Linked DNA regions of Homo sapiens: region 2 is linked to region 1. The links come from fine-mapping of genetic effects on gene expression. Tissue or cell type: whole blood. Region 1 holds a variant in brackets; the other region holds the start of a gene. All regions are shown on one strand. Distances are from middle to middle.

Region 1 (8,000 bases):
AATAAAAGAAGATATATTAATTTATCATATCCTTAATACAAATAGTAATATAGAGAAATCTATTTTTTACAAATATCTATCTTTGGAAACCTACCCAACTACAGATAAGCACATTCAAACTCAGGGTAGAACTCATCTTAAGAGAAATTCTCTGTGTCTTTGACAATCTGTGATGAAGGTCTCTGATAAGTGACAATTTGCCATTTTGCTGAGGCAAACTCTTGAATTATACATACCAGAACATAAATGTCATGGATTAATTACTTAGCTAGTAAGTATGTTTGGCCAACCTCCCAGACCCTACAACATAACACAACCTTGTTATGTTATATCTATAATTACATGATAGAATCATTAGGGCCTAAAGAGGTCATTTACGCTTTTCAGTTAGACTGTTAAAATTTAGAAATAACTGAATGAACGACTACAAATTTTGGTCGTGTTCTATAGGACCAAGCATGAAAAAAATATTATTATTCTGGCTTATTATCATGGTAGAGAAAGAGCCAGGAAGTAGGGTTCAAACTCCAATATCGGCTATTATCAACTTCTTTGAGACATTAATTTAATGAGAGTTGGACAACCTGATACCTGAAGTCCTCTTGAACTTTAGCATTATATTGTTCTACAAGTCTAATGATTAATGTATGATATTGAACAATTGGCATTCTTGTAAAGTAACCAACTAAACTCAAAGGTATTTGTAGACTCTTATCAAGGGAATCAGGAATGAAGAAAGGAAATTCTTCAAACAGAGGATTGAAAAGGATTAAAAATAGTTGAGGATTTCTAAAAATTTTTTAGAGTCAGGGTCTAGTTCTATCACCCAGGCTAGAGTGCAGTGGCACAACCAAGGTTCACTGCAGCCTCGAACTCCTGGGCTCAAGTAATCCTTCTGCCTCAGCTTTCCAAGAAGCTGGGACCACAGGCATGTGCCACCATTCCAGACTGGAATTCTTTAAAAAGGAAGGATAATTATCTATAAGAGAATATAAGAAGACAAGATGACAAAGAAATTGACAAGAAATGAAAAAAATCTGGCAAGAATTTGGCCCATTATTATGATTGATGTCATCGGAGTTCTCTGTTAGTATTGCAGGCCACCATAATTTGTGACACATCTTTCCTCACAACCACAGAGAAAGTGCTATTTCTCTTGGTAGCATAGTCCAGGTGGAATAGGTGTGCCAAAAGTCACTAAATTATGTTAGTGATTTTGACAAGTCAGATTAGATGGAAAGATTTCTCCAAATTTAGACAGAACCATTTATAAACAATCATATTCTATAACAAGCATACTTTATAAGCAGGACTACCCATTTATAACTGATATATATTCTTAAAATATTCTATGGTAATAATCAAAACATTTTCTGTGACCACTATTAAATGAAACATTAAATAGCATAATCTAATAAACCCTCCATTATATTTTTCTATTCTATTGTTTTCCTATATTCTTTCCACTTAAAATTGCCAAATATTCTAATGCTTATATTTTACTATATAATTTTCTAATAACTAGAAAAATATATATTTGGAAAGCACTCTCCTTCTCCATCCTTTCTTTGCATAATTAATCAGCTTCTAACCTTTTCTTTTTTCCTTACCTCAACTCCCAGAAGAGCAGCCCAGGTTAAACCTCTCATAAGAGGAGGAATGTCAACTCTTGCTTCTTTCCAGATTTGGTTTTTTTTATATGGATAAGCCTATGATATCAAAAAAGAAATGAAAACGTCTCAAATTACCTAGTGCCATCTTTTAGTCTAGACAGTTCTGAATATACCCATGATAAAACTTAAGTGACTTGCAATAAATTTCAAAGTATGTGCAATTATTGTGTCTGGTGTTATTAATACACATAAATAAGCAGTAGAATGAATGAATCCCTAACACCTTGAAAAACTCGTATTATATAATTAAGAAGAGCAGCTGATTCTACCTGATTTTTAATCCTTCCTCTCTATTTGATGCTCTGGGGGGATTTTAAATGAGTCAGATGGAGGATAATAGTACCAGTCTCATACGGGTTAAATAAGATAATGCAGGTAAAGCACTCTGTTAAAAACGTGGTGATAGAGAAGTGATCAATAACTATAAGCTACTATTATGAGTACTTCCGCATTTTGCATATAAATTTATACTTTTATAAATTTGTGTCTTAGGAGAAATTTCTAGAAGAGTATTAATAGGACAAAGGCAACAGATGTTGTTAAGGTTCTTGATATATGCATTCAAATTGTTTTACAAAATGTTTCAGTACATTCACATTTATTCCAACAGAATGAGAGTTCCAATATCATTGCATCTGTGCTCACTTTGCTAATGCAGTATGGAAAATCACTCCTATTTTAATTTGTATTTTTTTCATTCCCAGTGAAGATGAACAATTTGCATAGATTTACTAGCTGTATTTATATTATGTACTCTATCCATTTCTCTGTTTCAATATTGATGTTTTTCCTGTTGACTTTTAAGTCTTCTTTTAAAAAATAAAGACATTATTCCTTTTTTAACATGATTTTGCATATGTTACCACACCTTGTTTTTACTTTTTAATTTTACTTACTAAGAACATGTATCATTTTTAAAATGAAAGAAAGCTAACTGAACAAGATAGGTCATAAAAATTAATCTTCTTATTACTCAAGATTCCCTAAGAATTATTGAAAAAATTAAAAAAAAATTCCATATGGGCTATTGTTAACACTTTATACTTTAGAATCCATACCTTTAGCAGCCTGTCGAAGAGAATAATTCTATTTAGTTGGTACTCTGTATCCTTCTCTCTGATGATTAAAGGGAGCGTGGCAGCTGCAGACAACTCATTATTGCTGTTTGAATGAGGTAAATTAGACTGGCTGTAAAAGAGAACAAAAGCAATAAAAAAAAAAAATGGACAAAAGGTACAAAATTTTCTTTTTTTTTCCTAACTCTACCAACAGTGATTTCAGAAAAAGCACAAAATTTTAATAAACCAAAACCTCAGGTTATTATTTTCTATTTAGGAAACATTTTTCAAAGAAAATGTATAAAATTCTTATAAATCTAATATAAATAGAAAGAAAAATAAATCTAAAATGAGACTACATATACTCACTCATCTTCAAGTAATGGGTAAAATGCTTCTCCACCAACATCTTTCAATCTCTGTGTATTTAAAGACAAAATATTTATGTATAAACATATTGGGCAGAAACCCTGATCTGTGTTTAAAAAGACAAGTAATATAACAACTATAAATTTATAAAGGGACCTAGAAAAGTATAAAATAGAGTCTAAAAATCAGTTCTTACCATAAACATGCAAGCATACAATGCCTCTACTGATTACGGTTTGGCTGTGAAAAACAACTATTTTTTTCTTATCTATAGGTATCACTCATAAATGTTAGACACTTATCATGATATATTTTCCAAACAGAACTCAGAATTACTAGCACTAGTATAAAACTTAATGAATGGGAAAAAAATTTTAAGTTATATGAAGAAAGATGATTAAAAAGAGGTACTATATAGCCATGTATATACTAAAAGAACAACTTAGATTTATTTTTGCTTTGGCATAATACAAGCTAAGTCAAAAAGAAAGGTGCTAGAAAAAGGATTCCAAAATATTTCTCACATCATACTTTGAACATGTATGATTCAAATAGCTAATAAATCAATGGAGAGAGTTCACTTAATGACAAAATCATTTTAATAAATGTTGTTCCAAATAACAACCCTGACAGGATTACAGGTATTCTTCAAAATCATAAGCAGGAAGGCAGTAGTAAAGTAAAATGTTAACCACATCCTAAGCAAGGTGATTAAAGTTAATGCCATCTTGCCTGCTGCTCTGCTGTTCAACTTCCAACTTGAAGGCAGAATGTCTGCTCCTATGGGGATTGACATAGAAATTCAAGCTGTGTGTGCAGCAAGCACTGATCTTCTGCTGATTAGAGTCTTTGTGCACCCATGTGAGTTATTCCCAGAATTTTTAAAGCTTAAGAAAAATCTTTTACT[C/T]AAACTAAGAATTCAGCAAACACTGAATTTATGCCTGGTTCTACTCTAAAAATCAATGTGCTATGTACTTATCCTATTTTAAAAAACCTTTAGGTATATCTTTCATATATTAAAATTTTAAGTTAGGAAATAAAATTTTCCCAAGTTTTACTGCATTATTAATACACATAAATCTTTTTAAAGATTAGTTTTCAGTATACTGTATGTCATAGATTTTATCTAATTAAGTATCTTGTCTGTCTTTTCTAAATAAAAACTTAGCACATTAGGATTTTTAAAAGGTGAATGAAAACACTAAAGATAAAAATTATTATATGGTTTCCATATCATTTTAAGATTCAGCAAATTAATATTTCTTAATAACTACAGAAGAAGAGTATTTTAAATTTCACAAGTAGAACTGTAAAGGAATTGAGACATTTAGATTTGAAGCCTACATTCATTTAACTTGGATTATATTTAAATTGAAGAAACAAATTAAGAGCAAAACAAAATCAGCTGAAATCATATATTTTGGATGTAATTTATTGTTCGCTGCAGGGTATTATTACTTATTTTGTTACTTTCCACATCCTTTCTTTCAAAGAGATTATAAATTCAGAGTACTGAGTAGGAATAGTTATATATTTTAATTTTCTGTTGCTGGCATTATGGCAGACAAGAGATTCTAATACTCTCCTACTATATAACATGTAAAATATTAAATGGTTAGATAAGCTTTAAAACATAAGGAAAATGCAGTGATAACAGATATAAAACCAGGCCTAGAGAGAAAGTAGTTAATAACTGTGGTCTAGAGATTTAGACCATAATGGGATAAGGGTTTGGGAACCTACATAACAGACCTTCAGAATGGAGAAGACCCTTCTAAAGCCACGTAAAGAAAAAACTAGGGGAATTGCTGGCTTAGACAGAAAACAAGGATAGGTACCTATTTCAGCTTTGGCTATGAATGGTTAAAAATAAAAAGGCTAGGACTTCCACTTTCTTATACAAAATATAAACAGCTTAGAAGGCATCATTCTTCCTCTAACAAGAAAAATGCTGAACAAACTGAAAATCAAGAACTCGTCTCACATCTGTCAGAATCAGAGCATTGTGATGTCCTCAAAGCTGGAGGGACCCTCGAATACAGGGAATCACAGCTCAACAGGAACAGAGCCACTGCTGGAGTCTGTTAAGATCAATTAAAAGGTAATTATCTAATACTTGCAGGCTGAGCACAGACTAATACGAGAGAGAAAAACTTCTGGAGGCCCTGCCTTAGGGAGGCCTTCCTTGCTTCCATGAGATTAACCTCTGCAGGTCCCACCAGGTTCTCAGGGTGAAGATCTGAGAAAAATACCCTTGACTTCCTGCAGGGGGAGGTGGAAAGTAACCAATCTGAAATACAGCCAGAGTACTCTGTTTTCCTTGAGAGGCCTGTCTTAAAGGGAAACTCTTCGGTCAGGTCTTAACTAACTTGGGTTTTACAGAAATCTAACCAACTTGGGAAGGAAATATTCAACTCCAGTCCACTCTAGTCTTTGATGTAGGGGAACAGAAATACCCAACTCCAGCCCCTCTAGCTTTCCTGTCTCATGTTGGGGAGGAGGAGTGGGAGAAGCTGAGAAGCCTTGTGAAGGTCACAGCCCAGGAACACAGGCTCACTAAAAAACTGGGACTTAATGATAAGATTATAAAATACTTCTCCCCTATACTTTACTATGATATTAATAGGGCTTCTACATAATAACAGGATTCATTCCTTCATTTAGTTATTATATAGGAAGAAAACATATAACACATCAAATGAAGAGAAGTACAATGGAGGAAAAAAACAAAACAGGATAAAGAATACAAGGGATAGGTGTGGCGTTGCTATTTTATAAAGGATGGCCAACAAAAGCCCACCAATAGGTGACATTTTAGCAGAGAATGTAAAGAAAAGAAATGGAAGCACCGGAAGAGTGTTACAGGCAGTGGGAAGAGCAAGTTTAAAGGCCTTAAAACATATAACTTTAGAAAATGATTTAAAAACAAAATAAACAACCTGAGTAAACTTATAACCATTAAGCAGACTGAAGTAATGATTACACCCAAATAGGGATAAGGAGCCCTTACAATATGGTTTTAAAGCTAACTCCCATGAAACATTCAAGAAATAGATACATGTAATCATATAAAGTCTTTCAGAAAATAGAAAAAAAAAGGCAACACTCTCCTATTTATTTTATGAGACTAGTATACCCCTGATACCAAACTAGCATCGTGCAGTAAAAGAAAAGAAACTCACAGGCCTATCTCAAATAGAAACAGAAATGCAAAAATTCTAAACAAAATATTAGAAAATCAAAACACAAATGTATAAAAAAGGAAAAATGAAATCATGATCTGTTTGGGTTTATCCCAGAAATACAAACATGGCTCAACATTGAAAAACCCCATCAACATAATTAAATCCATTAACATAATACATAAAAAAGCATATGACCATCCCAATAGATACAGTAAAAACACTCAGTGAAATTCAACACCCATTCATAACAAAACTTATAACTAAGAATAGAAGACCTCTATAACTCAATGCAACAAATATCATACTTAATTATGAAATATAAAAAGCAAACTTTTAAAACCAGAAATTAGACAGGAGTGCCCACTATTTGTTTCTATTCAATAGCGTTATAGACGCTCAGCAAAAATAATGAGAAAAGATGAAGTGAGTAGATAAGAATTTGGAAATGAAGGAAAAAACCCTACCTTAATTCACAAAGAAAACCACAGGGAATCTATAGACATATTATTTAAAAAAGAATAGGTTCAGCAATGTTGCCTGACACAAAATCCACATAAAAAAATCAATTGTGTTACTAATCATGCACAAAACAGTAGTTGAAATAGTATTTTAAAAAATATTATTGATTTATTTTTTAAAATCCTCTACTGGTATACTTAAGATTTGGTACATTTTACTACATGAAAAAATATTATTGATGTATATTTTAAACTCATCTACTGGTATACTTAAGATCTATACATTTTACTATATGAAAATTTTGCCTAGAAAAGAACTATAAACAAATCTTAAACTCTAATGTGTAAGCTGAATTGTAGTAATGTCTTCATTTTACTTTGAAATGCAAGAACAAAAAATATGATGGATTGATGAATAGCTAGAAAGATAGACATGTGATAAAGCATGTAAAATGTTAATTATAGAATCTAGGTCAGGGATTAGCAAACTGTTTCTATGCAGGGCCATATGACAAATATTTTTAGCTTTGTGGGCCATGCAGTCTCTATCGCAACTACTCAATTCTGCCAATGCAGAACAAAACAGCTATACATAATAGGTCAATGAATAGGTGTGACTTGATTTTGCTAATAGATCATATCAATGCTTGATGTAGGTGGTAAGTTGTTCACTGTAAATGCTTTTCAACTTTTCTGTTTAAAAATTTTTATAATAAAATGTTGGAAAAAATCATACTCATACTTACATATATATATATATTCTATATACAAGAGCAATAATAAATTACCTTAGAAATAAATCTGATAACTGATATACAGACATTAAAAATAAAATTGTTATATAAAATAAGACAAATAAATGACATATTTATTTAAGCATGTTCAAGAAATAAAACCCTACATTTTAAATACATCAATTCTCTACAAATTAACTTATCAATTCAATGCAATGTCAATCAAAACCCTATAATTTTTTATGAAGTTCTTTATGATGATTATAAAAATCAGCTAGTAGAGGAAGATGTTAAAGAGTTCCTACTCCATTTTGAGGACAAAAAAACTGAAGGTCTTCCCTTGCTAGATATCAACAGTTCACATAAAACTACAGATTAAGGCAATGTGGTATTTGCTAAAATTAGAAAAACAGGCCAACAAATCAGAATATCAAGGCCCAGAAACATATCCATATACATAGAAAAAGTTGGTATTATAGATCAAAAAAGTGAAGAGAAAACTATTCAATATATGGTACTGAGA
Region 2 (8,152 bases), 78 kb after region 1:
ATTCATAAAAAGCTTCAAAAATCTTGAGTAATAGCCTAGTTTTTAGCTGGTGAATTAATGGGTGTTCATGTTATCATTATGCTTGGTAATTTCCATGCTCTGTATCTATATTTATCTACATATGTGTGTGTTAATACCACATATTTCATAATTAAAAGAATTTAAATAAAATAAATTGATTCTCAACAAAAGCAAAAGAGTTCAACAGGAAAAGGAAAGTCCTTTTTACAAATGGTGCTGGAAAAAGATATTCATATAAAAAAATAATAACCTCAACTTCTACTGATACATCCACAAAAATCTAAGATGGAACATAGGCTTAAGCGTAAAAGGTAAAACTGTTAGTCTTCTAATTGAAAACATAAGCGAATATCTTTACAACCTTAGGCTAGGCAAAGATTTCTTAGACACAATAGAACAAAGCACTAGCCACAAAAGACAATTTTGACAAAGTAGACTTCATCAAAATTAAAAACATCTGCATATCCAAAGGCACCCCTGAGAAAATAAAAATTCGAGTTAAAGGGAAATATTATTTACATCTGTCTGTATATACATATGACATTATGTATATATATGACCTTTTAAAATCAAACATATGTGTGTCTGTATATAATTGACCTGTATTCGGAGTCTATAAAGAAATACCACAATTCAATAATAAAACAAGCCAATACATAAATAGGTAAAAGTCACAAACATATTTTCACACAAGGCATGAAAATAATAAGCACATGAAAAAGTTCTTAATATCATTAATTGGGGGAAATGCAAATGAAAATCACAATGACAAACCTTTAACTTCTACAATGGCTAAAATTTAAATGACTGGCAGTAACAAGTGTTGAGAATGTGGAAGTGGAGCTTTGCTATATTGCTAGTGGGAGCGTAAAATGGCAAAAGAATTTTGGAAAATATTTGGAAAACTTTTCTAAAGTTAAAAATATCCCTAACTTATGACTCAGAAATTCCACTCTTTAACCAAGAAAAATGAAAACATTTGTCCATAAAAAAAAACACTGTATGAGTATGTTCATAGGAACTGTACTCTTAATAGCTAAAAACCAGAAGCAATGCAAATGTCCCATAAGTGAATCAATTAACATATTTGTACCATGAAATTCTATTTAACAAAAATGGAACAAACATGTCAAAACATGGATATACTCAAAAACATAAAGTTTATGAAAGAAGCAGACACAAAAGAGTTCATACTGTATGACTCCATTTAAATGTAATTCCAGAACTATAGTTCTAAACTATAGTATTAATAAAAAAATCAGAAGATAGTACTGTAGATGGGGGAGAGGGGTTGAATAAGCAGAGAAACAGAGGAACTTTCTGTAGTGGTAGAAATATTCTCTATCTCGATTGTGGTGGTAGTGGTTTTATGGATGAGTACATGCATCAAAACTCATTAAATTGGCCACTTAAAATCAATGTGTTTTAATATGTATCAAATTTTATCTCACACAAAATAAAACAGCTTATGAGAAGATAAACACTGCTATACATTTTCAAAGCATCAAACGTAACTAGAAAATTGTAAACATTTCAGACAGAAAAAACTGATTCTGCTATCAACAAGTTAAAGTGAGACTGGCATTCTCATCAGCAATAATGAAAGTCAGAAGAGAGCCTGGTGCAGTGGCTTGTGCCTGTGATCCCAGATACTTGAGAGGCTGAGGTGGGAGGATCACGTGAGGTCAGGAGTTTCAGACCAGACTGAGCAACACAGTGAGACTCCAGCTCAAAAAAAAGGAAAAAAAAAAAGTTAGAAGACATGGAAGGATTGAGAGTTGAAGGAAAATACTTTTGATTCTATATACAGCCAAATTATCAGTCATAAGAGCAAATTATAATTTACAGCTATACGAACATTAAAAAATAAAATTACCTTTCACTTGCCTTTTGTGAGCAAGTTTCCTTAGGATATATTCCAGGGAAATAGGGGGAAGCCCAATAACAGAAGATGAGGGGCTAAGAAACAATGTTATTTACCCAAGAATGAATATAAGCCCAGGATAGGAGCAATACAAAAGGACTAGAATGCAATCTGTTCAAATTAAACAGAAAGCCATTGGGCTTTAAGGGGAAAATCTTCAAACAGAGGAATGGAAGCTTGCTTCTATGTGCATCATACAAAGAATGAGAAGATTCAGTGAAGAAAGCACATCCACCTACCTATTCCCCAGGAGAAAGCAGAAAGGCAATTAAGAAAGTGGGGACGGTTAAAAACTATGTATTACATACTCCAAAATATAAAGCATGCTCAACTACAGCATATTTTGCCCTTGGCAGGAAAGAAATAAAAACCCATTTGACCTTGATATCATAAATAATCTCCTTAGTATGGCACAGGGATCATGAAGTTAAAACTCTGGGGAAAAAAACATATCAGAGCATACAGCTTGGACTTGCTCTAAGTAACAACTATAAAGCCATAATACTGTAAACATTTTATTTTTTTTATTGGTTTTTGGCACGTGAATAAAGCGCAAATGTTATAGTTAAGAAATATATTACTAACTTTGACAATGTACAAGTAAATGTCCAGCTAAGAGAAAGTGGGCATAAATGTAGTTTCTGAAGTGATAAAGAAAAAGGTAGAATCACTACTTTTCTCGTTTTACCAAACAAGGAGTCAAATATATTTTCAAAAGTTGATGTGAAAAAAGTAGTTTACGTATATTATTTTGAATTATAAAGTAACCAATACAAAAACTAAAAATTATGATTATGACTCTTCCAAAATTCAGAGGAGATTGTGAATGGTGTGGGCTATTTCTAGAAGTCAACGGAAAAAGAATTAGCAGTTCAACTTAGGGCTATCTCAAGAAGTCAACAAAAAGAATTAACAGTTTAACTTATTATTTAACCTACAGACCTAAAATTAGAAAAGGTTAAAAGTGGTTATCTTTGAAGAACAGTACTGAGAGTAGGACAGGTGAGACAGTTGCACTTTATTATTCAATCCTACTACGCTATACTACTTGATTTTTTTTTTTTTTTTTTTTTTTTTTGAGACAGAGTCTCACTCTGTCATCAAGGCTGGAGTGCAGTGGCATGATCTCGGCTCACTGCATCCTTCCACCTCCCGGGTTCAAGCGATTCTGTGCCTCAGCCTCCAGAGTGGCTGGGATTACAGGCGCCCGCCACCACGCCCGGCTAATTTTTGTATTTTTAGTAGAGACGGGGTTTCACCATCCTGGCCAGGCTGGTCTTGAACTCCTGACCTCAGGTGATCCACCCGCCTCGACCTCCCAAAGTGCTAGGACTACAGGCGTGAGCCACCGCGCCCGACCATTTTATTTTCAATCAGATGTCTTTATCATCACATAGCTGAAAATAAAATAACCAAATAAAACACAATGATCGAAAAAGATAAAACACTAATTAGCATAATCAGTGTTCTTTTTCCACTACCTCTTAAATGGTTGTACATAAAAAGGCTCACACACAAAAATACACACACATACATTCACTTACACCTCGTGAGTGGAAGAAAACTACCGGGGGAAAAAAAACGTAGAGATGAGAGATTAGATGAGGGAAACAGCAGTGCAAGCAGTTGGGCTTGAAAATTCATTCATTCAACAAATATTTTGAAGCCCCTATTTTAAGTCAGTTGTTTTTCCAGCTGGTGGGCAAAGGATAATGAACAAGTCAGACTCTGTGCCCTCAAAGAACTTAGAGTTTTAAACGACTCGAATGGGGAAAGAAAGTAAAAAATAGGGCAAAAGACGCCGATTTTATCATGAATAAAATTTCACATTTCTTCAACAGGAAAATGATACTAATTCATTTATTTTATATATACATTCTCTCAAGAGGTTATTTTTGTCTCAAATAGATAGAAACCAGGACAGGGATCCTTGAAAAGCAGCCACTGACAATCCTCAAGTAACTTCCTTCCTCTGCTTCACTTTCTCCTACTGCTCAAGGGGGTGTTACACTTTGACGACTGACTAAACCTCGAGGGCCAGAAACAAACCAAAGCAAAATTCTGCCTCCAAGGTGAGTAATGGAGGGGCGGATTCTAGATTCTCTAACCTCCTTTAGCCTTCCTTTGAGGCAGTGACAGAGCGATTACTAAGCCTACGGTTCCCAAACGACTCAGGTGAACCTGATTTACAGGAAAGGCGGGCTGTAGCTAGGGATGGAGACAGTACCTATCAGCAAGCGGCTCCACAGCTCGGTTCTCTATCTATTCTGAAGACATGCGGGGCCACTCACTGCTCCTGATAGTCCTCTACCTCCCACAGACCCCACCCACTACGACACGGAAAACTGGATTACCCAAATACCTGCCTCTGAGTCTGGGGACGCAGGCAAGCACAAAGACAAGGGGGATGGAGCTTCTACACAGGGCCCCAGCGCTGTCGCTGTGGCTGCTGCTGCCGCTACGGCTTAGTGCACCAGACGCTGCATTTCAGGTGCTCCTACAAAAGAGGCCACTCCTGGAACGCCGGGAGCTCAGACGCTGCCCTTTGCTCGCGAGCCAAGTCAGCCAAGGTTAACCTTCGCGGAACCCGGCGAGGAGCGCAAGCCTGGCCTTCCCCAAACACAGATCCGAGCTTTTCACCCTCTACCCTCCCCTCAGCCTGGCCTTTTCTTCCGCCCTCACAGCCACCGCGACCCAACGCTGAGGAAAGACCCCGACTTGTGGTGTCCTTCCCCTTGCCCAAACTGGCCACGAAAGGACATATAGCGAGAGAGAAAGAGGTGCGGGGGGACGGGGGGGGTCGATTGAAAATACTGGGTGAGGGAATGGAAGACGAGGAGCGTGGTATGGCAGGTTAATGGGACTGAGCACAGGAAGAGGAAGAAAGAATTGAGGGTTGAATCTGTAGAACACTCAGGCTTTCAGCAAGGACACCTCATTGGGTCCTTTCTCACTGCTATAGTACGCGGGTGGCTGGACCTACATGCTTCCTGCTGTGGCTGTCTCGGAACCCGTGGTCCTCCGCTTCATGTGAGTGACGTCGTGGCGGGTCACTCACTCGGGGATCGCCGATTGCGATCGTAGGGGTCTTCCTTCTCTAACTTGCCTCCAGGAGAGAGGACCTGGCCTGCGCTGCTAATGGGTAGTCCGTTCGCAGCAGGACCAGCCCTGGCCTAAGGAAACAGGAAAGAGTTTGAGACTTCCTTCTAAAGGAGCCACGTTTGAGAAATGGGATGCAGGCCTAAGTTAAGAATGCTACAGAAAAATATCGATCCCTAAGCGTATTTACTGTTATGTGAATGTGTGTGTCAAAGGACTTAGGTGCTTTGGGGGAGAGGAGGGTGAAGACAGGAATTTATTCATTGAGCGAATAGTTATTAAGCGCCCACTCTATTCCAGACACCGTTCTAGGCATTAGGTGAACAGCAGTGAACAAAACAGACGGAAATCTGTGTCTACTTGTAGCTCACATTTTAGAGAGGAAGGCACATACTAAGCAAAGTAATTAGAAACATACTGTATTTTAGGTCGTGATAGTCCTGAAGAGAAACGTAAAGCAGGGAAGAAGGGTATAAAGTGACACAGGAAGGTCTTGCTGAAAAGATGACTTTTAAGTAAAGGGCTGACAGAAGTGGGAGATTTAACCACGCGAATATCTTGGGAAAGTGCAGTCAGACAGAGGGACCAGCCATTGCAGAGGTCATGAAGCAGAAACGTGCTAGAATAGCAAGGAGGCCTGTAGGGCAGAGTTGAGTGAAGGGTTTAGTCCTTCACTGGAGATTAAATCAAGGCGAGCAGGTCATGAAGATCTTGAGGACATCTAACTTTTATTCTAAATGAAATAGGACTTTGGAGCGTTTTGAGCAGTAGAGTGATGGGCTCTGACTTCCTTTTAAGAGGGTCACTCTTTAAGGAAAATACACAGAGGAGGACGTGGTAGGAGAAAGGAGACCAATAAGAAGAGTTTTGCAATAATCCAGAGGAAGCATAATGGTGGTTTGACTATGGGTGGTAAGAAATGGCCAGTTATATTCTTGATGCACTTAATTTGGATATGTAAGAGTATTATAGATGACAGGGTTAATTTTATTTAATTAGGCTTTGGAGGACACTTGAAAAATGAATTCCAGTGTGAGTTTCAGAGTGGCAAACACAAGTTAAAATCATGGCTTTGCTATGTGGTACTTGAAGGGATTCAGATAAGTCATGTAATTTTCCTGGATCTGTCTATAAAATGGAAATCACATCTGTCAAGATTGCAAAGGTTAGGGTATATTATAGGTATTTAATGACAAGGTATGTAATGGGTCTAGTCTGCAAATCTTAACCAGGTAAAAGATGGCCTTATTGTGAGGTAAGAGGGTCATGGGAGGCCAAGGCATACTCCTTTTTAAATTTTATGGACTCTGTACTGGGGAGGAAAGTTTTTGTGTTAATGACGATGGTATTTAGAAATGCATGGACTGGCCTCTCATAGCTGTCCACCCTATAGTCATTCCTTATAGCCATCCTTTAAACCCTCCAGGACCCCCTATGTCCTCATCAGTAAAGGGAAAGCAGGCTGTCTGGTAAGGGAAATAGGAACTTCCATAAAAAAGCAATTTTAGATATTCTTTTTATAGGTTTTGGCAAAGGTTGATAAAAGACCTAGGGAATTACTGCTGGTTGCTGCGCTTACATATTTTGAGTGTCTTCAGATGCATTGTTCTCAGTGTATTTAATTTTCTTCTTTAAATTCTGACTTTTGACACATATGATTTAAATCCTAGCAGGAATTTTCACCTAGTGCTAAAAGGTACCACATTGCTTTACACTATAATAAGGACGGTCTTTCAGTGTGGGGTATTTTATGTATACTATAATATTTTTACATATCCAGTAATTAGATTGTGTAGCAAATCAGGGAAAGAAGTTGGAAGGCAAGAATAGGAATGAAGGGAGGAGAAGAAAGGAAGAAAATGATTAAAATTACTATATTCCATCAATTCTGAGATACACATTTTTCTCTTACTTAACATCTCTGAAATAGGGATGTATTTTTAAGTTGTTGACATCTTTAAATCACTGTAGATGAATTGGCAGTTGTGAGATATTTGTCATTGCCCACACTTACACCCACTTAGTCATAACTTAATCTTGTCATTATTTCAGTTGAGTTATATATGCACTATTGGCATATAGTTGTTGAGTGTAATTTCCCTTTTAAAGATCATTTAGAAGATTATGATTAGCATTAGAATGAAAAGTTACTGTGTATGTGGGGAAACAAAGGGTGATACAAGATAAAAATCCAGGGTTAAATTTAAAAGAAGTCTGTCAATAAATAATATAGGATGTGTCTAAGTAATAAGAAAGCATTGGGTCAGTTGATTCAATAGTGTTTTTTTTCATAATGTACATAAAATAATAGAGCTTCTTGGGATTGAAGCCATTTTACAATTGATGGCATTTTAGATTTCTTGTATAGTATTTAAAGCTTCCAACAAAAATGTAAATTTTTACCTACTGTAATTCTGAAATAGGGAAATTAGAGGTTTTGAGTAGAGACACTTTCAAATTTGTGTAGCGTTCCTATATAGCATAAGAATTCTAAAATTAAAAGTCTGCCTGTAAAACTTTGATTTCAAAGTAGTAACTTACTTATGTTTGATTCCCAATGTTGTCATCGTGGGGCAGAGATTTTGCTTTTTCAAAAAGATTGCAGGCAATTTAGATGGTGTGGGTGGGGAGGACTACTGAGGAAATTGCTCAGTAAACAAAAATGATAGTGAAGATCTCAGAATCTCAAAAATCATCTTTTGTGTGTGTATTTTAATGATTAAGATGTACTATAAATTCATGTACAGTATTTGGGATTCTGCATTAGAGGCATCGTATGATTAATGGCTTTTTAGGTTTGATGAAGTATGATAATTAACATTGAGAAGGACAAAATTAATGTGAAGGGACAGAATGATTTAGATAATATGTTTCAAAAGCTTTTGTCCTAAAAAATGCATTATTACCATTTTAATTTAGTAAAGGAAAAAGAAAAGGTCTTGATCCTCACCAAACACAATTAACATACTTGGTCTACAGTTTTCTGTGCTTCTCTCTTCATAAATGTTTTATATTTTCAATTACTGTGCATGTCATTCTTATATCTATTTTAATCTCACAGTCTTAATTTTTTTACATTTTAGTCCAGAGACTTAAACTAGCATTTCC

Evidence for each region. PIP is the estimated chance that this variant, and not a neighbour inherited with it, causes the effect.
Region 2: it holds the start of AIMP1, and the variant in region 1 is fine-mapped to the expression of AIMP1 in whole blood (TOPMed, PIP above 0.99).

What each region holds. Positions count from the first base shown.
Region 1 is chr4:106,233,659-106,241,658 of GRCh38, forward strand. TBCK (TBC1 domain containing kinase) reads right to left here. Exons shown (of 26, transcript NM_001163435.3): 13 at 3,101-3,150; 14 at 2,732-2,861; 15 at 1,611-1,709. Among named protein-coding and RNA genes, the nearest start is that of TBCK, 79 kb to the right of the region's middle. The variant C/T (reference allele first, on the strand shown) is at 4,008.
Region 2 is chr4:106,311,620-106,319,771 of GRCh38, forward strand. It overlaps AIMP1 (aminoacyl tRNA synthetase complex interacting multifunctional protein 1), which reads left to right and starts at 4,931. Exons shown (of 7, transcript NM_001142416.2): 1 at 4,931-4,975. TBCK (TBC1 domain containing kinase) reads right to left here and starts at 4,590. Exons shown (of 26, transcript NM_001163435.3): 1 at 4,312-4,590. RefSeq lists enhancers at 4,170-4,259, 4,340-4,399, 4,890-5,139.